7 linked regions of the Homo sapiens genome follow. The protein of the gene in region 1 purifies or fractionates together with the protein of each later gene. This does not show direct contact. Each region holds a gene or a part of one and is shown on either strand. Other genes may lie near its edges.

Region 1 (3,500 bases):
CTAGTAAAACCTTGGATTAGTCAACCTGTCAGGGCCTTGGCATCTTTTTTTGTAATATGGTCATGTGGTTATACTTGTAGATAGTCTCTAAAGTCCTTTTAAGTTATAAAATTTGGATTCTTAATTGTTAAAATATTCCTAAAATGACTTCTTAATCACTTTGGAAAATATGTTGATTTTGTCTTATTTTTTAAATTTAGTGTCATGATACCCTGGTGCAGTTTGGTGGGTTTTTAGCATCTAATCTGAGCACAGAAGATTATATAAAGCGAGTGCCTTCAATTGATGTACTCTGTAATGAATTTCATACACCCCATGATGCAGCATTTTTCCTGTCTAGGCCAATGTATGCCCATCATATTTCGGTAAGTACAAGTGTCTTTGCTGCCGCTCAAGAACGATCCAAATTATTTCTTAACGGTTTTATCTGTAAGTACATATCACTACAGATTTTGGGGGAAGGTCTTGGCCCTAAACTAGGATCCCTTCTTTGTTTCCAATAGGGGTACGAAGCTGTGTGGTAGAGGTATACAAAAAAGGTGATGAGAAATTTGGAGTCTAATTGATCATTTAATCAAACATCTGCTGTTAGTGTTTACATATCAACTGCTACAGTCTCCCACTTCTTTCCTAACTAACTGCTACTTGATTTAATTATCACTTTGTTAGCACTATGCAGAAATTCCTGTGTTATGTATACACTCTGAAGGGAAAAAGACAATAAGGGAGTGGTGTTAGGCTGCTTCTTCCCCTTTAGATCCTCTCAATCCAGAGAATTGTTTGCCGTCTTTGTGTAACGTCTTACTGTTGTCACACCCCATGGTAGATCAGTCTCAGCTGTGCAAGAGGGTACCTGATTTCTTGACAGACAGAGGTGGGAGAATTTCTTCATCTTAGGAATTCTGACCTGCCCTGTGCTAAGTGAACACACTAATCAGCAATATGGAATCCTAGCAAACAGGAACACCTGGTTGTCTGTGGTTGGCTGAACTTTTCCAGCTCAGAAAATGGAGCAGGTCATTCAAGCTACTTTTTCTCTCTTACTTGTGTAAAATATTACCTTTGTCTTTTAAGAGATACAAAAACCTAAACAAAGAAATGGCATTTCCCTCTCAGGCTTGGAAGAAAACAGAAAACTAAATGAAAGTGGCTGTATAGCCAAGTCAGATATAAGTCTTTTATCTGTAGGCAGCATGCCACTCTCTGGAAAAGGTGTTTCCCAGCAATCTTGTGGTTGTGCTGGATGGGCATCCAAGCTGTCCTGGGGATCCTTGCTTTTGCTTCTTGAGTGAAAGCCTCTGTTGAAGAGCCTTCGTTGAGAGAGTGAAAATGTATATTAGGTGATTGCTATGTCCCCTCTATAAACTATCAGCAGGCTCTCTTGAGGATAATTCAGCCAAACGCTGCCCAGATTTTTTTTTTTTTTTTTTTTTTTTTTTTGAGATGGAGTCTCGCTCTGTCTTCCAGGCTGGAGTGCAGTGGCGCAATCTCAGCTCACTGCAACTTCCACCTCCCGGGTTCAAGCGATACTCCTATCCCAGGCTCCCAAGTAGCTGGGATTACAGGTGCCCGCCACCACACCCAGCTAATTTTTGTATTTTTAGAAGAGATGAGATTTCACCATGTTGGCCAGGCTGGTCTCAAACTCCTGACCTCAGGTGATCCGCCTGCCTTGGCCTCCCAAAGTGCTGGCATTATAGGCATGAGCCACTGTGCCTGGCCTGCTCAGATTCTTGAGACGAGATTTTTGAACAATAGTGAGAAGTACAGCAATAATTGTGGATATCAGTTCTATTCCATAAGTCTAGTTCCCCAGGCAATTTGAAATGTAGAACTGTTATGTCTCTTCATTTGACTGAAGGTGTGAACTTGAAGTGGGAGTTAAACTGACTTTAGACAAGGACATATTCATCTTGGGTAAATACGAAGTATAGCCTTCTTTTCTGACCAAGCCTATTTTTCTAACTAGATAGTGACTATGGGGTTCCTAGCAATAGAAATCACAGATTCAGACCCAGAGGACTGGGGAGATTGGAGCTATCATGTAACCCTCTCATACCTATAAACTAATTTTTAGTTTTAATTGTTGAGGTTGTGGTCCACCTTGAGACACAGGTCTGAAAGATAGGCTTTTAACCTAGTTCATATTCTAGATCTTGCCCAGAACAGGTAATTAGGCTGTCTTTTATGCAGATAATGTCAGCCCTATTTTATCCCGTTTTGTTAGAACCTTAGCAGAAGTCATTCTGCTCATCTAGATTCATATTAGTTACCTTCAATAAGACCTGTCCTCTAAATTAAAAAACACTCTCTGTTTTCCCAACTGCTATTCCCTCAGGTTTCTGATGCAATTGGGACTCCTTTTTCGTAACTAATGTTCTTTGTAGCTTTGTCACTTACGTGGTCTCAGTGGTTGTCAGCATGCTCTCTAAAATGGGGATAACAGAGCATAAATCTTCCCACTTCTAGAACAATTGTAAAATTCTAGAACAATTGTAAAATTGAGCACTCAGGAAGGAAGGCAGGTAACTGAGCTGTAAGGAGCTGAGACTCTTTTGCCTATCACAGTGTAGAACTGGAAGCAGAACCTTTGATCATCTCGTTTTGGGTTACGTGTTTAGCACAAATAGAATGATTTAAGTGATTTTCTAACGTAAGGAAGTAACTAGTTTTAGGACTTCCTTTAGGTTCGTATGAAGGGTGATACCTAACTTAAACAAAATTTTCTGGATGAGAGCTCTTTCATCCTAAAGAGACTGAAGGATGTGAAACAATAGCAGCAACTCTGTGTTATCTTCATATATATGTGTGTGTGTGTGTGTGTGTGTGTGTGTGTGTGTGTGTGTTCATGTATAATATATATGTTCATATATATGTTATCTTCATATATATAGAATATATAGAAAAAATATATATATTTTTGTGTGTGTATATATATGTATAATATATTTGGCATACACATCTCTGCAGCCCCTCCCATTGTACTAACAATTTTTTTTCCTCATACAATTAAGAATATGGCATTCCTCTGTTTTTTCCCCCAAATTAGGATAAACCAGTCAAACGAAAGAAGCTGCAGCATCAGTTCTCACATGCTTTAAACTTCAATATACCACAGCTTTTCACAGAAAAATTTATTTGGCTTAGCAGTAGAGTAACCAGTTGGTCCTGGTTTGCCTGGGATGTTCCCAGTTTTAGCACTGAAGTCTTAAATCCTCAGAAATCCCTGAATCCCCAGCAAACCCTGACAATTGGTCACCCTACTTAGCAGTCTTAAAACAAATTTCTCATAACTTTTCTTAGTGTTGATCCAGCTTTTTTTTTTTTTTTAATTTTTATTTTTTGAGACAGTCTCCTTCTGTCATCCAGTCTGGAGTGAAGGGGCATGATCTCAGCTCACTGCAACTTCTGCCTCTGGGGTTCAAGTGATCCTCTCACCTCAGCCTCCCAAGTAGCTGGGATTACAGGCCTGCGCCACCACGCCTGGCTAATTTTTTGTA
Region 2 (3,500 bases), on another chromosome or scaffold:
AGTGGGGCGTGTGCGTGAGTGCAGCGGAGGGGCCCGTGCTATTCTAGAACTTCCTAACCCAGTGGGGTGTGTGCGTGAGTGCAGCAGAGGGGCCCACGCTATTCTGGCAACAGTTCCCTGTTGGAATTCCTACATGAGAACGAGTGGCAAATACAGGTTTATTCCCAAATAACGAGTTAAATTCTTATAAGACATTGCTATTGAGGGTAAGAAAAGATGGGAAATAAAAAACATACAACAGGAAGAACTAATCTACTACCACGTGCCTCACATCCTGAACCCAATGCTGCCTATGACTGAGGCTTACTAAAGGTGGCTGCTCAGGATCCTCTTTGGGAAAAAACAAACAAACAAACAAAAACACTGCCAAAGTTTTTAAATACCTTCAGGCCTCTTCTGAAAAGAAAAGTTGCCTGACGAGTATCTTTCTGATGATTTAATTTATTTCCACTCCTGGTAAAATTAGCTGGAATGTTATTTCTGCAACAAAAACACATAGGCCATGCTAAGCCATTTAACTACTTTCAAACATCTTGAGGAAAAATAAGCAAAAATAGTTAAATTCATAGGCTGCAAACATGAGGTGCAAGAAACAAACAACTCTGAATTATTTGCTTATTAACATGAAGCTACTGAGATTTGATTAACAAATACCTCCCTCCGAAGCATAGCACATAACCACGTGTTAATTTCAAACCACTTTATCTTCCAAATATTCAATCCTCTAATATCCCATATATCTTCTGAAGACATTAATAATCACATTTTTAGTGCTATTTCCTATATTTGGTGAAAACATAACTTTACAATTTATAGGATTAGTACAAAGAAAAACCACACATAGGCCAAACTGAAGACGTAAAATAAACTGAAGACCAAAAATAAAGAGAAAGGTTTGAAAAATAACATCTCCTCCTCCAGCTTTCTCTTCCTTCCTCACTCAGAAACCATTATGTATTAACATAAACCATAGAGGCCAGGCATTATGGCTCACACCTGTAATCCCAGCACTTTGGGAGGTTGAGGTGAGTGGATCACTTGAGGTCAGGAGTTTGAGACCAGCCTGGGTAACATGGTAAAACCCCGTCTCTACTAAAAACACAAAAATTAGCCAGCCTTGGTGGCACACGCCTGTAGTCCCAGCTACTCAGGAGGCTGAAGCATGAGAATTGCTTCAATCAGGGAAGCAGAGGTTGCTGTGGGCCGAGATCACGCCACTGCACTCCAGCCCAGCGACACAGACTTCATCTCAAAAAATATACAAACCACAGAAAAACTTATACTCTTCTATTTCTTGTTCTTTCATGCACAGAACAATGCTCTTAATTATGACTGTCACCAATTCTTTTTTTTAATTTTAAGTTCTGAGACACGTGCTGAACGTGCAAGTTTCTTATGTAGCTATACATGTGCCATGGTGGTTTGCGGCACCTAATTTCTTTTGTTTTCTATAGGAAGTTAGTGAAGTACGAAAAATTAAAATTTCATATTTATCTATGAAATATTCAATCCTCTAACATTCCATGTCTTCAACTGATGTATTGATAAATATGAAACACTATATAAACGAGTGTTTAACAGATTCCCTAGTCTTACCTCCAATCTTTCAGAGATTCAAGTTCAAAACTGCCCTAGCTAACCCAATTAACATGTAAGTCTCACGTAAATGATGGGTTCTTATTTGAGAAGGTCCCCTTTCACAAAAGGTACTATCAAGTGATTCCCAAAAGATGATGGTTAAAACTGCAATTCCAGCCATTCCATTTTTTGTTTTTTTATTTTTATTTTTTTGAGACAGAGTCTCACTGTCACCCAGGCTGGAGTGCAGTGGCACCATCTTGACTCACTGCAACTTCCGCCCCCCAGGTTTAAGCGATTCTCCTGCCTCAGCCTCCCAAATAGCTGGAACTACAGGCATGAACCACCACGTCCAGCTAATTTTTGTATTTTTAGTAGAGATGGGGTTTCACCATGTTGGCCAGGCTGGTCTCGAACTCCTGGCCTCAGGTGATCCACACGCAGCGGCCTCCCAAAGTGCTGGGATTGCTGGCATGCACCGGTCACCACATCGGGCTAATTTTTGCATTTTTTTTTTTTTTTTTTTTTGAGACGGAGTCTCGCTCTGTCGCCCAGGCTGGAGTGCAGTGGCGGGATCTCGGCTCACTGCAAGCTCCGCCTCCCGGGTTCACGCCATTCTCCTGCCTCAGCCTCCCAAGTAGCTGGGACTACAGGCGCCCGCCACCACGCCCGGCTAATTTTTTGTATTTTTAGTAGAGACGGGGTTTCACCGTTTTTAGCCGGGATGGTCTCGATCTCCTGACCTCGTGATCCGCCCGCCTCGGCCTCCCAAAGTGCTGGGATTACAGGCGTGAGCCACCGCACCCGGCCTAATTTTTGCATTTTCAGTAGAGATGGGGTTTTGCCACATAACTCCTGACCTCAGGTGATCTGCCTGCTTTAGCCCCCCAAAGTGCTGGGAATACAGGCATGAGCCACTGTGCCCAGCCACTGCATTTTTTAAAAACCTCATTCCAGGTTTTTTTTGCTGACTTATCTTCCACGAAAGATAAATAAATAATACTTGAAACTGAATAAGGAAACTTCACACCTCATCAACTTCATCTACTTTGTCCTTACAGAGAACAGAATGCCATAACAACAGATCATAATTTTTCTTTTCTTTCTTTTTCAGAGATGGGGGTCTCACTATGTTGCCCAGCAGGTTAGCCCTGAATCCTGGGCTCATGTGATCCTCCTGCCTCAGCCTCGTAAGTAGCTGGGACCACAGGCACATGCCACTGCACCCAGCTCACAGGCCATAATTTTTGGTTTTTATTATTCAATTTAGTATAAAAATAATTTCAGTTTAACAAGTGTTCATGAAGAATTCTCCCTTTCTAGTTTGATTTTTCCACAAATAACATACATTGTGATTCAGTGTTCTAGTAAGAGCCATCCAGACTGAGTAACAAATTGAGATTTCAGAATTCTCAATTTTGAATAATTCCCACTAAGATGTTAAGAGTTCTACCAGGGCTGGGCACAGGGGCGCATGCCCGTAATCCCAGCACTTTAGGAGGCTGAGGTGGGAGGATCACTTGAGGCCAGGAATTGAGACCAGCCTGGACAACATGGTGAGACCCTGTCTCTATTAAAAAAAAAAAAAAATTAGCAGGGCATGGTGGCATGTATCTGCAGTCCCAGCTACTCAGGAGGCTGATGTGGGAGGATCGCTTGAGCCCAGGGCAGGCCAAGGCTCCAGGGAGCAGTGATGGCGCCACTGCACTCCAGCCTCAGCAACAGATCGAGAAGCCCTGTCTCAAAAAACAGGGAGAAAAAAAAGAGAGTTCTACTAAAGTGATCAGCTTTTGCAATTTTATTCCATATGTCAAAGAGGTAAAGAAGCAGAGTGATGCTTTTTAAAAAGCTTATATCGGTTAACTTCATCAGTAAGAATTCATCTAATAAACAAGCTATTACTGGATACATCCATGTGGATG
Region 3 (3,500 bases), on another chromosome or scaffold:
AGCTGGGACCACAGGCACACACCACCATGCCTAGCTAATTAAAAAAATGTTTTTTGTAGAGACAGGGTCTCGCTTTGTTGTCCAGGCTGGTCTCAGACTCCCGGACTCAAGTAATCCTCCTGCCTTGGCCTCCCAAGTGTGTGCCACTGTGCCCAGCCTGACAGCATTCTTAATAATGAGTGGGACAATTCCTTTCACTGTTAATTTGTGCAGTCTTAAGATAATGTTCTCTTTTTAGAATTTTTGATTCTATGTATAGAAAATAAATGGAGCAATTAAAAAATGAATCAAGAAATATTTATCCTGTCCTATTAGAGCCCCCAAACTTTCCCATTTCTTCAAGGTGTTTCAACTTTGCCTCACAAAACCTACCTAGTTTTCTTTGAAACTGATTACCATATTTACTAGACACAGAAAATATATTAGCTAGATGTTAATAGCAGACGCTGGCATAGGCAAAAGATCATTTATTAAAATAGTGGTATTCTGAAAATAAATATTTTAAATTCTATTTTATTATTTGTGCTTTTGATAATAAACTTGATACTGAAAAAGATTTTTAAAGGCAATAAAATTTTGTACCCAAATAAATATGCTTTAAAACTTTTGAAATTTAAAGAATTCTGAAGTTTCCATTAAATTCTGTGAGTTCGGAATTTAAAGCATAAACACTGTATATCATCAGTAACAATCTGTGACACTGATACTAGCAGCATTTGTCACAAAAGGAACATATCATGAAATGATACAATCATGAAAGGATAAAATTATCTTAAAGGATATAAAAACTCGGTCATAAATGTCTCCAGAATTTTTCAACAAAAATGGTCTGGTTTGCATATTGCTAGTCTCCAACAGAAATTAGAGCATTTTGTCTATTCTTGCCTAGTTTTAAAAGACATGGATGCAGTTTATTATATTGTTGTGATCAGTGCACATACTGTCATATTTTGCTATCATTTTATTATGTTTTGGCAAAAGAGGCAAAAATAATTCTAAACACGTGTAGCAGAGCATTCAGATTCAAGCAAGTTCCTATGGGTACATTTCTGTAGCTAAGTAAAAACTATATATCTCAAATATTACCATTCCCAACATTTCTCTTTTATTTTTTACTGACATGAAGCTTTAAAAGTCATGAGTCAATTTTGATTCCTATATATACCTTAAAACCTGCAAAGTCCAGACAAGTCCATGTTTGATGTCTTTCAAACAGCTTCTTACACTGGTTTCTACAAATGGATTCCCCACCTCCTTAAAAAAATTAAGTTCCCTTCAGGCATGTCTTTGATGTTATCATATAGAGACTCTAATTTTATATGGAACTATGTGGAACATATTGACGAAGGCATGGCCCAAACCAAAATGTTTTAAAATGACATATCTACTTAAAAAATAGTACTTATTCATTTAATACCTTTAAGAATCCATAAGTTATTTGAAATTGGGAAAGTGGCATGATCAATATAACGTACCAAAGATTATCTTCTCTTATGAGCTCATATATCCAATACCTAATATTCATAAAACACATGGACCTTATCATATACACCAACAATTACTGTATTCCTCCCTTAAAGTTATTCAGAGTATAGAAACTTTTGTGGGAATGTGATTAGAACATAACCATGAGGAGTACACTTTAAAGGAATTATCTACTACATAATATTTGCAAGCTTTATATATTCTATAATTTGATAAATATGGCATATTGTTCCTATTAAAGAGTATACCATTTGTTTCTTGATGCTTCCTCACTGTAAAATAGGGATTTCATGAAGATCCTGTAACACCAAAGAATAGGAAGAAGAAATCTGTCAAATATTTTATTTCTATTAAATTAATAGCTTATAAATAGCCAGGCACAGTGGCTCCTGCCTGTAATCCTAGCACTTTGGGAGGCCGAGATGGGCGGCTTGCTTGAGGTCAGCAATTCAAGACCAGCCTGGCCAACATGGTGAAACCTCATCTCTACTAAAAATACAAAAATTAGCCAGGAGTGGTGGTGCGTGCCTGTAGTCCCAGCTACTTGCGGGGCTGAGCCAGGAGAACTGCTTCAACCTGGGAGGCAGAGGTTGCAGTGAGCTGCGATCATGCCACTGCACTCCAGCCTGGGTGACAGAGTGAGACTCTGTTTCAAAACATAAAAAACAAAAATAGAAATCAAGAGTTTCAAGAAAGTTGCAGAATATAAAATCAACTCACTAAAACCAGTTGTATTTCTATACACTAACAATGAACAATCTGAAAAGCAAATTAAAAAAACAATTCTATTTACAGTAGCATCAAAAGAATAAAATACTTAAGAATACATTTCACCAAGGAGACAAAAAACTTGTACAATGACAATCAGAAAATGTTGCTGAAAGAAATTATAGAATGACCAGGTGTGGTGGCTCACACCTGTAATCCTAGCACTTTTGGAGGCCAATGAGGTCAGAGGACTGCTTGAGCCCAGGAGTTGAGACTAGCCTGGGCAACAAAATGAGATCCCTGTCTCTATAAAAAAATAAATTAGCCAGGTTCGGTGGTGCATGCCTGTAGTCCTAGCTACTCTGAAGGTGGAAGCGGAAGGATTGCCTGCACCCTGGAATTTGAGGCTACGGCGAACCATGATTGTGCCACTGCACTCAAGCCTGGGCAATGAGGCAAGACCTCATCTCTAAAAATTAGTAATTAAAAATTAAAAAATCTTAAAAAGAAATATAGACCGGGCGCAGTGGCTCACGCCTGTAATCCCAGCACTTTGGGAGGCTGAGGCGGGCGGATCACGAGGTCGGGAGATCGACACCATCCTGGCTAACACAGTGAAACCCCGTCTCTACTAAAAATACAAAAAATTAGCCGGGCGTGGTGGCGGGTGCTTGTAGTCCCAGCTAGTCAGGAGGCTGAGGCAGGAGAATGGCATGAATCCAGGAGGTGGAGCTTGCAGTGAGCCGAGATCGCGCCACTGCACTCCAGCCTGGGCTACAGAGCAAGACTCTGTCTCAAAAAAAAAAAAAAAAAAGAAATATAGAAGACACTAATAGAAAGGTATCCCGTGTTCATGGACTACAAAACAATATTGTTAAGATGTCAATACTATATAAAGCAATCTACAGATTCAATGCATTACCTATCAAAATCCCAAATCCCAAAATCCCAACATTTTTTGCAGAAATAGAGAAATCTGTCCTAAAGTCAAGGCAAGATGACAATCTCTTCAGCATAGCACATACCATTTTACATAATTTGGATCTATGTACATTTCTAGCATCATATCCTATCCACCTCCCCCAAAACTCCAATCTCCCATTCCATTTCCTCTTAGAACTAAACCTAACTATCCAGAGTTCCTTGAATAAAATCAAGCTCTTATCTGCAAACTTTTGCATGTGCTATTCTCTCTACTCAGAAAATTCCCTCCCCTTCCACCATCTTCCTTGCCTGGCTAATTAGACTTAATTATCAAGCCTGGTCTGACATAAACCATGCACAAACCCACTTCCCCATGCAACCAC
Region 4 (3,500 bases), on another chromosome or scaffold:
AGCTGATTCTGAAATGCAAACAACTGATGGGTGTCATTTTGTGTTGTCAAATTCTGTACTCTCTGGCCGACCTGTTGTAGCCAATGTGTAAACTTGTGTTAAGAAGCTGATGGTAATGAGCTACTCTAAAAAGATTTAAGTTTTGCTGTGGATTTGGTGGGTGTACTTACAGCATTGCCCTGCTTATCCACTCTCTCGCTTTTTTTTGTGACCCCCCTTCCTAAAATGAGGTAAACTGTAGCCATCAGTTTTTTTATTTGTTTTCTTTTTTTGAGGCGAAGTCTTGCTCTGTTGCCCAGGCTGGAGTGCAGTGGTGTGATCTTGGCTTACTGCAATCTCTGCCTCCTGGGTCCAAGCGATTCTCCTGCCTCAGCCTCCCAAGTAGCTGGGATTACAGGCGCCCACTACCATGCCAGGCTAATTTTTTTGTATTTTTAGTAGAGGCGGGGTTCCACCATGTTGGCCAGGCTGGTCTCGTACTCCTGACCTCAGGTGATCACCTGCCTCCTCGGCCTCCCAAAATGCTGGGATTACAAGCGTGAGCCACCGCGCCTGGCACCATCAGTTTTTGATCCTGATACTTGTCTGTCCTCTTGGTTCTCCTCATCCCTAATTTAACCTTGAACACAAAATTCAACAGGTTTTGGCATATAGAATAAAGATTATCAGGCAAAGGCGCACTCTTGACCTAATGATATATCTACATTTCATTTCCTGATCTATCAGCAATATTAATTGTCTAGAATGATGAGAAGTTTAGAGAAGTTCCATGACTTTGAAATTTTCTTTCTTTACCTAGGTTATCTAAATTACAATTTGAAACTCATATAAGATCATGAAGCTAAGCTTAAATAAACCGCATTTTGTTGAAAATGAATACATATGTACTATATTGTATTCATGGTATGTGGTTGTATGGATATTGTTTACATATGTTTGGATAAATAGGTTCAGGTATCTATCTCAGTAACGTAAGAAAAAATGAATGGTATCTATGGATTGAACTCCTCATATATATGTTCTTTTCTTTTCTTTTTCTTTTTTTTTTGGAGACAGAGTCTCACTCTGTTGCCCAGGCTGGAGTGCACAGTGGTGCAATCTCGGCTCACTGCAACCTCCGCCTTCCGGGTTTAAGCAATTCTCCTGCCTCAGCCTCCTGAGTAGTTGGGATTACAGGTGTGTGCCACTATGCCCGGCTAGTGTTTGTATTTTTAGTAGAAACGAGGTTTTACCATGTTGGCCAGGCTGGTCTCAAACTCCTGACCTCAAGTGATCCACCCACCTTGCCTCCCAAAGTGCTGAGATTACAGGCATGAGCCACTGCGCCCAGCCTGAACTCATATGTCCTAAACCAAAGGAGGCATTTATATTTAATATGACATAGTCACTGTGGAGTTTTGACGTATTACTGCATTTGTATTTCTATCTTTTTTGCTTTTATGTGAAAGTTCCACAGAAACAGACACTTCCAGTTGCTCCCAGAACTCGAACTTCTCAAGAAGAATTGCTAGCAGAAGTGGTCCAGGGACAAAGTAGGACCCCCAGAATAAGTCCCCCCATTAAAGAAGAGGAAACAAAAGGAGATTCTGTAGAAAAAAATCAAGGTAATAACTTAAATGATGTTTCACTCTTTACTACAGTTTTTTCATGAGGCATTGAATATTTTCCAATGGATTTTTATGAAATATTACACTATGAAAAAAGTGATGATTAAGCCCAGAAATAGAATGAGAAGAATACCATGAGGAAGGTTCATACCAACACTTCAGAAAAAAATTTTTTTTTTAAAGAGGTAGGGTCTTGCTGTGTTGCCCAGGCAGTCCTCAAACTCCTGGGCTCAAGCAGTCCTCCTGCCTCAGCATCCTTAGTAGCTGGAGGTGTGTACAAGTGTGTGCCACTGCACCCAGCCCTTTCTAGAAATTTTTGAAAGTCTTTTTATTGTGGAAATTTTTAATATTCTCAAAAATGGAAAGGCTAGTACAGTGAACTCTCATGAACCCAGTCATTAAGCCTTAGTTATTATCAGAATTTTGCTGGTCTTTAGATAGCTCCTTCTTAAAGATATATTTATTTCTGCATTCTTTCTTTTTCTCTTTTTGTTGATCCTGCCCGTTTACCTGAACTTGAAATTTTAGTTACCTTTAAATCTCCCGTCTCTTAAGCATCCTGTCTCTGACCTCCCATATGTGTCCCAGCAACCCTAATTTATCCCCTCGTGCCTAACATACTTCAGTTTGCTTCCAGGTTTTTTTTTTTTTTTTTTTTTTTTGCTTTTTTCTCAGCTTTCTCCCCCAATTCCTATACAATCTTTTGACTTTGAAAGTGTGTCTCTCATCTTCTGACTCCTTTGTGAAAGTATCTCTCCCCTCCTCCTCATTACCCAGAACTAACGCTATTAGTTTGGACTTTTGGTGTCTGTTATCTGACCCCTGGGCCTGCACAGCCCTTCTCCATGACTCTTCAGACCTTTTGTCTCTTTTGTCGTCAAGAAGGATTCTTTTTTCTTCTGTTTCTTTTTCTACTAAGATTTGAATTTTAAGACCCCACCAAAAAAATCTATATGCTTATTATGTTATTTCTCACATACTTTTCAAGAACCTTGGAATATATTTTTTCATTTCTTCAAAACTGTCCTTTAAATTGTTCCAGGTTTCATGAAACCTTATGATTTCAGAATTGTCAATTCTGTATTTGTTTCCTCATTGTGTCTCTTTAAAAATTTTTGACTGTATTGTTCAGTTTGCCATGACAGCGTTATATACTATTCTGATAATTGATAGGCCTGAGGACAAGACCTGTTTGGTCCCCAAACAGCAGATAGGTACCAATTGGAAAATGTGAATGGGCCAAATTGAGAAGAGGAGCTGAAACTGAGGAGGGATTTTGCTCAGTGCAGTGGCAGATGAGGCTGATCTAAAAGGACTGCAGTGGTCTACTCCCTGTGGAGTCTGTAGTGTGTTGCACCAAGGTTTTCTTCAAACACAGGACTCTACGTGAGAGTCTTGGAGTGGAATCAGATGGAGCAGGGAAACAGACAATAGAGAAAAGGAAAGAATGTCAGATAAAAATAGGAGAGGAAAACAATAGGAAATCTCAAAGCAAGGTGCCATATTTTTTAACATCACAAAATCAACAGAAGAAGGTTGTTGATTCTGAAGTTAGAATAGCTATCCAAAGCAAACTTTCCCCTAAAATGAACAACAGAAAAGTATCAAGGTCAAGTCCTGTGCCGAATTAAAAGATAAAAGGGAATAAAAGACAAAACAGCATTGTTTCAATGAAAGCATGCTGAAAGGTATACCAAAAAGAAATACAATTTCAAAGTGAGCTAGAAGACATTATTTAAATAATACAAGACAAAGCCAAGAAAAACATAAAACAGAAGAACTTTGAGGCTGGGTGCAGTGGCTCATGCCTGTAATCCCAACACTTTGGGAGGCTGAGGCAGGAGGATCACTTGAGACTAGCCTGGGCAGCATAGCAAAACCCTGTCTCGACAA
Region 5 (3,500 bases), on another chromosome or scaffold:
TGGTGTGATCTTGGCTCACTGCAGCCTGGACCTCCTGGGCTTAGTTGATCCTCCTGCCTTGGCCTTCTGAGTAGCTGGGACTACAGATGTGCATCATCACTTGCAGCTAATTTTTTTTTGGGGGGGGGGGTAAGGTTATAGATTAACAGCATCCCAAGGCAGAAGAATTTTTCTTAGTACAGAACAAAATGAAGTCTCCCACGTCTACTTCTTTCTACACAGACACAGTAACAATCTGATCTCTCTTTTCCCCACATTTCCCCCTTTTCTATTCGACAAAACCGCCATCGTCTTCATGGCCCGTTCTCAATGAGCTGTTGGGTACACCTCCCAGACGGGGTGGCGGCCGGGCAGAGGGGCTCCTCACTTCCCAGACGGGGTGGTGGCTGGGTGGAGGCGCCCCCCACCTCCCGAACAGGGCGGCTGGCTGTGCGGGGGCTGCCCCCCACCTCCCTCCCAGACGGGGCGGCTGCCGGGCGGAGACGCTCCTCACTTCCCAGACGGGGCGGCTGCTGGGCGGAGGGGCTCCTCACTTCCCAGACGGGGTGGCCGGGCAGAGAAGCTCCTCACCTCCCAGACGGGGTGGCGGTCGGGCAGAGACACTCCTCAGTTCCCAGATGGGGTCGCGGCCGGGCAGAGGCGCTCCTCACATCCCAGACGGGGCAGCGGGGCAGAGGCTCTCCCCACATCTCAGACGATGGACGGCCGGGCCGAGACGCTCCTCACTTCCTAGATGGGATGGCGGCCGGGAAGAGGCGCTCCTCACTTCCCAGACTGGACGGCCGGGCAGAGGGGCTCCTCACATCCCAGACGATGGGCGGCCAGGCAGAGACGCTCCTCACTTCCCAGACGGGGTGGCAGCCGGGCAGAGGCTGCAATCTCGGCACTTTGGGAGGCCAAGGCAGGCGGCTGGGAGGTGGAGGTTGTAGCGAGCCGAGATCACTCCACTGCATTCCAGCCTGGGCAACGAGCACTGATTGAGCGAGACTCCGTCTGCAATCCCGGCACCTCGGGAGGCCGAGGCAGGCAGATCACTTGCGGTCGGGAGCTGGAGACCAGCCCGGCCAACACAGCGAAACCCCGTCTCCACCAAAAAATACAAAAACCAGTCAGGCATGGCGGTGCGCGCCTGCAATCCCAGGCACTCGGCAGGCTGAGGCAGGAGAATCAGGCAGGGAGGCTGCAGTGAGCCGAGATGGCGGCAGTACAGTCCAGCCTCGGCTCGGCATCAGAGGGAAACTGGGGAGAGGGGGAGGGGGAGGGAATTTTTTTTGTATCTTTTGTAGAGACAGGGTTTTGCCATGTTGCCCAGGCTGGTTTCGAACACCTGGGCTCAAGCGATCTGCCCGCCTTGGCCTCCCAAAGTGTTGGGATTACAGGCATGAGCTACTGCTCCTGGTGTTTTTTATTTTTTAGAAGTTTTTTTCTTAACTCTTCCAGCTCTGCTGTTTACTCTTGACCCATGCTTATTTAATTGATGCTTGAACCAGGTACAGTGAAGTTCAAGTCCATTCCTCACCCCTTAGTAGCTCTTGGGATAGTTAATCTCCTTGGTTCTGAGTTTCCTCATTTATAAGATGTGAACAATAACCTGATTCACGGGGTTGTAACATTTAAAGGACGTCTAAAGCTGGGCATGGTGGCTCCATACTTAGAAGGCTGAGGCAGGAGGTCAAGGCTGTAGTGAGCTATGATCACTGCACTCCATCCTGAGCAGCAGAATGAGATTCTGTCCTTTTAAATTTTTTAAAATATGTTTTTGAGACAGGGTCTTGCTCTGTTGTCCAGCCTGGAGGACAGTATCTCGATCCTGGCTCACGGCAACATTGCAGTCTGGGGCTCAGGTGGTCTTCCTGCTTCAGCCTGTGGAGTAGACTCATGCTGCCATGCCCAGATAATTTTCTGCTTTCATTTTTATAGAGATGGAGTCTCACTATATTGCCCAGGCTGGTCCTGAACTCCTGGGCTCAAGCCATCCTCCTGCCTCAGCTTTCCAAAGTGCTGAGATTACATGGTGTGAGCCACCATGCCCAGGGAGTCTCGCTATGTTGCCCGTGCTGTTCTCGATCTCCTGGGCTCAAGCCATCCTGCCATTTGGCCTCCCAAAGTGCTGAGATTACAGGCATGAGCCACTGTGCCCAGCCTTGTTTCTTAAAAAAAAAAAAAAGTCTGTGTGAAAAATTGTCAACCTGTAGTGAGTAATACTCAGAAGTTTTCATTGATCATGTCCTTTATTTTTTTTGAAACAGAGTCTTGCTCTGTCGCCCAGGCTGGAGTGCAGTGGTGTGATCTTGGCTTGCTGTAACCTCCATCTCCTGGGTTCAACTGATTCTCCTGCCTCAGCCTTCCGAGTAGCTAGGATTATAGGCGCGTGCCACCACGTCTGGCTAATTTTTGTATTTTTAGTAGGGACGGGGTTTCACCATGTTGGCCAGGCAGGTCTTGAACACCTCACCTCAAGTAATCCATCAGCCTCGGCCTCCCAAAGTGCTGGGATTACAGGTGTGAGTCACTGTGCCTGGCCTAGCTGCAAGTTTCTGAGGTCACCCCAAAGCATAGTCCCAGTTTGTCTATGGCTTTGTAGGCCATGGAACACGAAGCCTAGGGTAGCCCAGTCCTAGGGAGGGTGGATGCCATCTACCACATACAACCATTTCTTTCTAATCGTGCATGCCGACCCCCTGAACACTCCCTTCCTTTGGCCCTGCTTTCTCTAGTGCCTCCATCTCCCAGAGTCCTCACATTAAAAAAATAGGACAGGAATGGCCAAGTAAACCTTAAGCCTTATCTGATTAATTGTATAAATGACCCTTCTACCCAGAACCCACTGGAAAATCTTTAAATCTGAATTTGCCACTCCAAAGAGAAAAATGATAGCATGCATCACTGCCTGTTTTAGTCCGTTTAGGCTACTATAAGAAAATACCCTAAGCTGGGTAACTTATAAAAAACAGAAACTGCCGGGCGCAGTGGCTCACGCCTGTAATCGTAACGCTTTGGAGGCCAAGGCAGGCGGATCACGAGGTCAGGAGATCGACAGCATCCTGGCTAACACGGTGAAACCCCATCTTTACTAAAAATGCAAAAAATTAGCCGGCCGTGGTGGCGGGCGCCTGTAGTCCCAGCTACTTGGGAGGCTGGCGCAGGAGAATGGCATGAACCCGGGAGGCGGAGCTTGCGGTGAGCCAAGATTGCGCCACTGCACTCCAGCCTGGATGACAGAGCAAGACTCCATCTCAAACAAAACAAAACAAAACTGAAGAAAAGAAACTTCCTTGTCACAGAGAGTCTGGGAAGTCCAGGATCAGGATGCTGGCAGATTCCATGTCTGATGAGGGCCTGCCTGCTTCCTGGTTGTAGATGGTCTTTTTGCTGAGTCCTGACATGGTGGAAGGGGCCAAGGAGCTTTCTGGGGCTTCTTCCTTATAAAGGGCACTAATCCCATTTGTGAAGTCTCTGTCCTCATGACTTAATCACTTCCCAAAGGCCACCACCTTCTA
Region 6 (3,500 bases), on another chromosome or scaffold:
GAGCTATGACAACCCAAAATGTCTCCATCCATGGCCAAATGTCCCGTGGGGGCAAAATTACTGGACTGAGAACCACGGATGTAGACCTGTGTAACAGTGTACTCCATGAAGGAGGGGAAAGGTGGCCTTTCTCCTTATAACCTGGTAGGGAACTTTCTCTCTAAAACTATTTGCCATACTCAGTTTGTTGGCTATAGAAATTGATCTACAGTTTCAAAGATTTTTGTTGAAAGATTTCAATAGCAGCCATTGAGATTTTAAGGTGCTGTTTGCAAAGGAGTTTACAAGATAAAACAGTCAGCAGCTCACAAAAGGAACTCATCACGTGAGACTCTGAAGCCACATCCCACTTAGACCATTTCACAAGTCCACTTTTAGAGTAACAAGGCCCTCAATGAGGGTGATAGCACCGATGATCAGAAAGGAAGACATGTTAATAAAAGAAGACTTGAGAAGATGTGGGAATTATCTTGAAATGGAGGAATTAGATGGACTACACATTTTCTAAATGAAATAGCTTAGTGATAGGCAAAGATTGGGACATCTGGAGAAAAAGTAATTTAGGGTGACAGAAGAAAGGTAATTCTGTTTTAGACACGTTTTAGGTATTAATAAAACTTACAACTGAAAGTGTCTTAGAAGCTGGTCAGAAATGGGTCTAGAAAGTGGACCAGTGCTAAAGCTATGGTAAAAGGAAAACTTCATCTGAATTAAATTTAAAGGAGTTTAATTGAGCAGCAAATTGGGCAGCCCCCAGAACCACAGCAGATTTGGAGAGACTCCAGGGATGCCTTGTGGTCATAACAAATTTATAGACAAATGAAGGGAAGTGACAAATCGGAAGTGAGGTACACAGTGGCTGGATTGGTTACAGATTTGCAATTGTCTTATTTGAACACAGTTAGAACACTCAGCAGTCCATGAGTGGTTGAAGGATGGCTGCTGGGATTGCCCAAGACGCAGCTACTGTTACAGGCGCATACTCCTAAGTTAGGCTTTCAATCTTGTCTACCTATTAAGCTAGGTTACAGTTCATCCACAAGGACTCAAATATAGACATACGGAGTCCTTCTCAGGCAATATTTAGTTTGCTTTAAGAGCTATAAATGCTAGCCAAAACCATAAATGGGTATGGGGCATCGGAAGGATAGTGAAGAAACAGGAGTGGACAAGTCAGCCTTTGGGGTACAGTTCAGACCATCCTGGGTAAATGTTGAGAAGCAAAGAAGCAAAAGGAGACTTAGTAGGATATCAGAGGAAATTCTGTGACATATGTGTTTTATTCAGAATTGGAGCAAAAGAAGGAAAAGGATATTTAAAAGCAAACATACAGAATTTGTGTCACATAAAAAAAACAAACCTGTGAGAGCAGAAGCGGTGTGTTTTGAGAAGTGCAAGACATGGCAGGGCCAGCTAATGGAGCTGGTGGAATGCATACTGAGGAGGTTGTGAACGTGGTTCATGCTCCCTTCACTCAATTTGGTAACCCCCTGTCCCCAGCCAGTGTTGAATATGCAACCCCTGATATGGAACTCTGGTCTTTTGGCATCTATTTAAGTGTTTCTTCTGACTATCTTCCCTGAAAAAGAGGGTGAGTTGAAGAAATTCCCAATGCCTGTTAAGTTGTTGGACCCAAGTAATTATGTGATTAAAAAAAAATTTAAACTCCATAATAGTCCTATCTTTTAAAATTTCTTTGAAAATAGAAGTGAGTGTCTTGTTTCATTTTTGTCCACTGGTAATTTGGGAAAGAGAAATTGTTGACTTGGCTAAGGTCACAATAAAGGCAAGCCCAACTCCTTTACCTTATATTTATTTATTTATTTTTTTGAGACAGAGTTTCATTCTTGTTGCCTAGGCTGGAGTGCAATGCGTGATCTCAGCTCACTGCAACCTCCTCTTCCCGGGTTCAAGTGATTCTCCTGCCTCAGCCTCCCAAGCAGCTGGGATTATAGGCACCTACCACCATGCCCGGCTAATTTTTGTATTTTTAGTAGAGACAGGATTTTACCATCTTGGTCAGGCTGGTCTGGAACTCCTGACCTCACGTGATCCATCCACCTAGGCCTCCCTAAGTGCTGGGATTACAGGTGTGAGCCACCTCACCGGGTGGACACAGTTTCTAATGGCCGGCATTTGCATGTCTAAGCTTGCTGTCCCAGCTTGAAGAGCCGGGCTTTCCTGCTAGACAAGAAACGTTCCTGGAGCTGCTTTAAAAGAAACAAAAACTTCCCAAGGACACCTTTTCCTCTCTATAGGCCTAAAATAATTTTTTAATAACTCCCATAATGAAAGTCGGGGGTGGCTTCCAGGCTATAGGTAAATTTAAACATTTTCTGGTTGACAATTGGTTGAGTTGGGCTAAAAACCTGGGGTGAATAGAAAGGAATGTCTGGGTTGTGATAAGAAGTTGTAGAGACCAAAGTTTAATCATGCAGATGAAGCCTCCAGGTAGCCGACTTCAGAGAGAATGGATTGAAATGCTTCTTATTAGGCCTAAAGTTCTGTGTTGATGTTCATGCTGGTGAGGTATAATGAGGTATGTTCGACCCCCACTTCCCATCATGGCCTGAAACAGTCTCTCAGGTGAAATTTTAAGACCCCTGGCTAGGGAGGAAGTCTGTTCAGCTGGTTTGGGGGGCCTTAGAATCTTATTTTTGGTTTACACATGATTAAAAAATACTTTAGCTCCATAATAATCCTATCTTTTAAAATTTCTTTGAAAATAGAAGTGAGTGTCTGGTTTCATTTTTGTCCACTGGTAATTTGGGAAAGAGAAATTGTTGACTTGGCCAAGGTCACACTACAGGCAAACCCATTTCCTTTGTGTTGATTCCCTTGCCTTGTGTCTTGTCTTGGCTTATTTAACCCTCTTTTGAGGGAATCACTATAATTCTTAAAAGGGCAAGGCATTGTTAGGAACTCCTAAAGACTAGAATGAAGAATCAGAGACTGGTAGATGGGAAAGGTTGCGTTTTTAGCAGTTTTGGAGAATACCTAGAACAGAAGCTATTATTTATGGAGAAAGCAAGCAGAGGTTGGACAGATTCTGGTATAGAAGTTTTGGCTTGGGGATATAAAATTGGGATCAACTTAAAATCTAATCCATTGGTACACTGCTAATAAAGGCATACCCAAGACTGGGTAATTTATAAAGAAAAAGAGATTTAATGGATTCGCAGTTCCACGTGGCTGACGAGGCCCCACAATTGTGGTGAGGAAGGTGAGGGAGGAGCAAAGGCACGTCTTACATAGCAGCAGGCAAGAGAGAAGTGCAGGGGAACTGCCCTTTATAAAACGATCAGATCTTGTGAGACTTATTCACTATCACGAGAACAACACAGGAACAACCCGCCCCCATGATTCAGTTACCTCCCACTGGGTCCCTCCCATGACACATGGGGATTATGGGAGCTACAATTCAAGATGAGATTTGGGTGGGGACACAGCCAAACCATATCAAGCAGGTATGAACAATTTGGCTTAGGAAATCAAAATCA
Region 7 (3,500 bases), on another chromosome or scaffold:
GGTTCAAGCAATTCTGCCTCAGCGTCACGAGTAGCTTGGATTACAGGCACGTTCCACCATGCCCAGCTAATGTTTGTATTTTTAGTAGAGACGGGGTTTCACCATCTTGGTCAAGCTGGTCTCGAACTCCTGACCTCAGGTGATCCACCCGCCTCAGCCTCCCAAAGTACTGGGATTACAGGCGTGAGCCACCACACCCAGCCAAAATTTTTTTTTAAAAAAGAATTTTCATTCTTTTTCCTTTCCTGGTCCTGAATAAATATTCAATCAAGTCTTTAGACTGTTGGGAAGAATGAATTGGAGAAACAGGGAGACCAGATGAATGAAACCAGACCCTTCGTCCACACATCTTGATTCCCTCTATGGTGGTGTCTTCCTCCTTCCCCAAATCATTGACTGTCCTGTCTTCCAGGTGGAGGCCACAAGCAGGAAAGAAAAGGCCAAGCAGAGGCCCCTGGCCCTGAACACTGTGGAGATGCTGCGTGTGGCCAGCTCTTCTCTGGGTATGTAGGGACATTTCTCTCAAGTCACCAGAAGGCTTCCTGAGGCAGGTTCAGCCTGGAGCAGCGAGTGCCCAGGGTTGCAGGATGGTGCCCAAGGCTTCAAGGGGATCTGAGCCTCAGGAGGATTTCACTTATCCTTAGGTTGTAAAGGTGGTAAAGTTGGTCACCACCTGAGGGGACCTCCTGATGTTAGAGTCCCTGAGCAGCTATCCCTGGTGAGGGGAGAGGCCCCAGCCAGATGTCACCTTCAGGGAACCAGTGTGAACGTCGCCCCTCAGCCTCATCTCCTCAGTCTTTTCTCCTTAGTAACGAGGAGGGGGTTGGGCTGGAAAGCTGGTGGTCTCTGGCAGCTGTCAGCCCCTAGGCATTGGTGCCCCCCACCCCCGCAGGGAACTATGGGCAGTGTCCTCTCAGTGGACACTGAGTGGTGGCTCCAGCGTCCTCAGAGGGCAGCAATGCTGGGAGTGGTTGCTAGCTAAGCGCCTGCCTCTGCTGGTCAGGGAGTAGCAGGACGAGCCCCCCTGAGTGGCCCCAAAGTGCTGTGAGGACAGAAACACCCAAGGGCTCAAAATGGGGCTGCGTGCTAACTCTGTCGTCAGCCAACCCCGAGGTATGGTTATGGCTCCATGGACAATGCATGGGGAGTGGTGCTCTGAAGGCCATGTGTCATCCCCATGGCCATGAGCCCCATGAGGATGCACCGTGGGGTAGAGTGAGTGGCGTTTCCCATCAGGCCCATCCTGGGTGTAGGATTCAGCCTTACGGGTGCGGGATTCAGCCTCATACAAGACTGTGTGGCATAGGTGCCCACCCGGCCAGCAGCTTTGCACTCCAGCTGTGCCTGCTCAGAGCCACCGTCACCCTCCAGGAGGGGCCGGCCACAATGGGGGAGCCTGAGTGCATAGGCCAGGGCAGGCAGCTGGCCATCCCCACGTACCTGGCCCTCTGAGAACCTCCTGTCTCTCGCAGGCATGGGGCCGCAGCACGCCATGCAGACGGCTGAGCGGCTCTACACGCAAGGCTACATCAGCTACCCACGGACAGAGACCACCCACTACCCTGAGAACTTTGACCTGAAGGGCTCTCTGCGGCAGCAGGCCAACCACCCCTACTGGGCCGACACGGTGAGTGGAGCCGGGCCGGCCTCAGCATGTGTGTGTGTCACTGAGGCCTTGGGACCAGGTCTGGTACGTCAGCCAAACCCAGGCAGGCAGCCGAGCCCAGCCACAGACTCTGCTCTGTCTTCTCTCCCTCAGGTGAAGCGGTTGTTAGCAGAAGGTATCAACCGCCCGCGGAAAGGCCATGACGCCGGCGACCATCCCCCCATCACCCCCATGAAGTCTGCCACAGAGGCCGAATTAGGTACCGCTCTCATCCCATACCCGGTGTGCTTCCAGGGAGGGAAGGGCGAGCTGCGACAGTGAAGGTTGCAGGCCCTGTTGGCAATGTGGGGGCTCCTTCAGCCTCTGCCTGCCCTGGCTGTGGGGATGGGGGGCCACCTGGAAGATGAGCTCCATTGCTATGGGACCAGGACAGGAGTGAAGAGGTAGCAGCAGGTGCTGTTGCAGGGAGGCAAGGGGGCAGACGCCACAGGGGACATGAATGAAACCAGGGTAGAGAGTGGCGGTGTGGGGGAGGGGGCAGCACACCTCCTACCTCCCAGCTGGCCTAAGGTGGTACCAGTGGTCCGAGTGCCAGGAGAAGGCAAATGAGGAAGGGAGAGCAGTGCAGGTAGAGACAGGAGCCACCTGTGGACAGTCTGAGTTTGAAGCAATGGTGTCATGTCACGAGACAATGGAAAGACAGGCCAATGCCTGAAGAGCAGTCCCGCCAGAAGCAGGGACAGGAGGTTGTGCAGGATGGTGGGAGCCGCAGCCAGAAAGAAACCACTGAGGCATGGAGGCTTGTGTTCCCTTCCTCCGCATTTGCTTTTTTTTTTTCTTTTTTTGAGACAGAGTCTTGTTCTGTCACCCAGGCTGGAGTGCAGTGGCCCGATCTCGGCTCACTGCAACCTCTGCCTCCCAGGTTCAAGCAGTTCACCCTGCCTCAGCCCCCCGAGTAGCTGGGATTACAGGCTCCCACCACCACACCCAGCTAATTTCTTTGTATTTTTAGTAGAGACGGGGTTTCACCATGTTGGCCAGGCTGGTCTCAAACTCCTGACCTCAAGTGATCCATCCACCTTAGCCTCCCAGAGTGCTAGGATTACAGGCATGAGCCACCACGCCCGGCCTTCCTGCACATTTTCTTTCCTCCTTCCCCAGGATTTGCAGTGTGTCCTGCACAGCGGCTCTGTAAGCAGGAGCTTGCTGCTCGAGCGAGAGTACTGGGGGCTCCTCACGGCCAGAGCCCCCAGCTGGCTCCCAACTGACTAGCCCTGGCCTGTTGCAGGGGGTGACGCGTGGCGGCTCTATGAGTACATCACCAGACACTTCATCGCCACGGTCAGCCATGACTGCAAGTACCTGCAGAGCACCATCTCCTTCAGAATTGGGCCCGAGCTCTTCACCTGCTCCGGGAAGACCGTCCTCTCACCAGGTCACACCACGGGCCCAGCCTTCCTCCTCTGTGCCTTCATGGGCAGACAAACATTCTACATCGTGTCTGGGGATGGGAGGCCCAGGGTCTGAGGCCCCGGCCACCCAGGCTGGGGACCCTGAGTGGCGGCGCATATCTCTCCAGGCTTCACGGAGGTCATGCCCTGGCAGAGCGTGCCCCTGGAGGAGAGCCTGCCCACTTGCCAGCGGGGTGATGCCTTCCCTGTGGGCGAGGTGAAGATGCTGGAGAAGCAGACGAACCCACCCGACTACCTGACGGAGGCCGAGCTCATCACGCTCATGGAGAAGCATGGCATCGGTGGGTGCGCCTGCCCAGGCCCCAGAGCCGGCTCCGTCTCCAGTACTCAGGCTTCGAGTCTACTCACAAAGCTGCCCCGCCAGCCCTGTGTGCCCAGCCCAGCACCCCTCCATGGGCTGGTATCTGGAAACTGGTGACCCA

What was found.
Region 2: the proteins of THOC2 (region 1) and FYTTD1 purify together in Homo sapiens (affinity purification with mass spectrometry; one large-scale study listed by BioGRID and IntAct). This does not show direct contact.
Region 3: the proteins of THOC2 (region 1) and RBBP8 purify together in Homo sapiens (affinity purification with mass spectrometry; one large-scale study listed by BioGRID and IntAct). This does not show direct contact.
Region 4: the proteins of THOC2 (region 1) and ZC3H14 purify together in Homo sapiens (affinity purification with mass spectrometry; one large-scale study listed by BioGRID and IntAct). This does not show direct contact.
Region 5: the proteins of THOC2 (region 1) and POLDIP3 purify together in Homo sapiens (affinity purification with mass spectrometry; one large-scale study listed by BioGRID and IntAct). This does not show direct contact.
Region 6: the proteins of THOC2 (region 1) and ACADSB purify together in Homo sapiens (affinity purification with mass spectrometry; one large-scale study listed by BioGRID and IntAct). This does not show direct contact.
Region 7: the proteins of THOC2 (region 1) and TOP3B purify together in Homo sapiens (affinity purification with mass spectrometry; one large-scale study listed by BioGRID and IntAct). This does not show direct contact.

What each region holds. Positions count from the first base shown.
Region 1 is NC_000023.11:123,628,553-123,632,052, reverse strand, and holds part of THOC2 (THO complex subunit 2), read left to right. Parts: intron 1-200; coding exon 201-365; intron 366-3,500. UniProt on the Homo sapiens protein: Component of the THO subcomplex of the TREX complex which is thought to couple mRNA transcription, processing and nuclear export, and which specifically associates with spliced mRNA and not with unspliced pre-mRNA.
Region 2 is NC_000003.12:197,770,383-197,773,882, reverse strand, and holds part of FYTTD1 (UAP56-interacting factor), read right to left. Parts: intron 481-3,500; coding exon 384-480; intron 1-383. UniProt on the Homo sapiens protein: Required for mRNA export from the nucleus to the cytoplasm. Acts as an adapter that uses the DDX39B/UAP56-NFX1 pathway to ensure efficient mRNA export and delivering to the nuclear pore.
Region 3 is NC_000018.10:22,939,828-22,943,327, reverse strand, and holds part of RBBP8 (DNA endonuclease RBBP8), read right to left. Parts: intron 1-3,500. UniProt on the Homo sapiens protein: Endonuclease that cooperates with the MRE11-RAD50-NBN (MRN) complex in DNA-end resection, the first step of double-strand break (DSB) repair through the homologous recombination (HR) pathway.
Region 4 is NC_000014.9:88,576,537-88,580,036, forward strand, and holds part of ZC3H14 (zinc finger CCCH domain-containing protein 14), read left to right. Parts: intron 1-1,448; coding exon 1,449-1,604; intron 1,605-3,500. UniProt on the Homo sapiens protein: RNA-binding protein involved in the biogenesis of circular RNAs (circRNAs), which are produced by back-splicing circularization of pre-mRNAs.
Region 5 is NC_000022.11:42,604,884-42,608,383, reverse strand, and holds part of POLDIP3 (polymerase delta-interacting protein 3), read left to right. Parts: intron 1-3,500. UniProt on the Homo sapiens protein: Is involved in regulation of translation. Is preferentially associated with CBC-bound spliced mRNA-protein complexes during the pioneer round of mRNA translation. Contributes to enhanced translational efficiency of spliced over nonspliced mRNAs.
Region 6 is NC_000010.11:123,015,506-123,019,005, forward strand, and holds part of ACADSB (short/branched chain specific acyl-CoA dehydrogenase, mitochondrial isoform 1 precursor), read left to right. Parts: intron 1-3,500. UniProt on the Homo sapiens protein: Short and branched chain specific acyl-CoA dehydrogenase that catalyzes the removal of one hydrogen from C-2 and C-3 of the fatty acyl-CoA thioester, resulting in the formation of trans-2-enoyl-CoA.
Region 7 is NC_000022.11:21,962,288-21,965,787, reverse strand, and holds part of TOP3B (DNA topoisomerase 3-beta-1), read left to right. Parts: intron 1-412; coding exon 413-503; intron 504-1,472; coding exon 1,473-1,627; intron 1,628-1,759; coding exon 1,760-1,865; intron 1,866-2,894; coding exon 2,895-3,041; intron 3,042-3,185; coding exon 3,186-3,359; intron 3,360-3,500. UniProt on the Homo sapiens protein: Releases the supercoiling and torsional tension of DNA introduced during the DNA replication and transcription by transiently cleaving and rejoining one strand of the DNA duplex.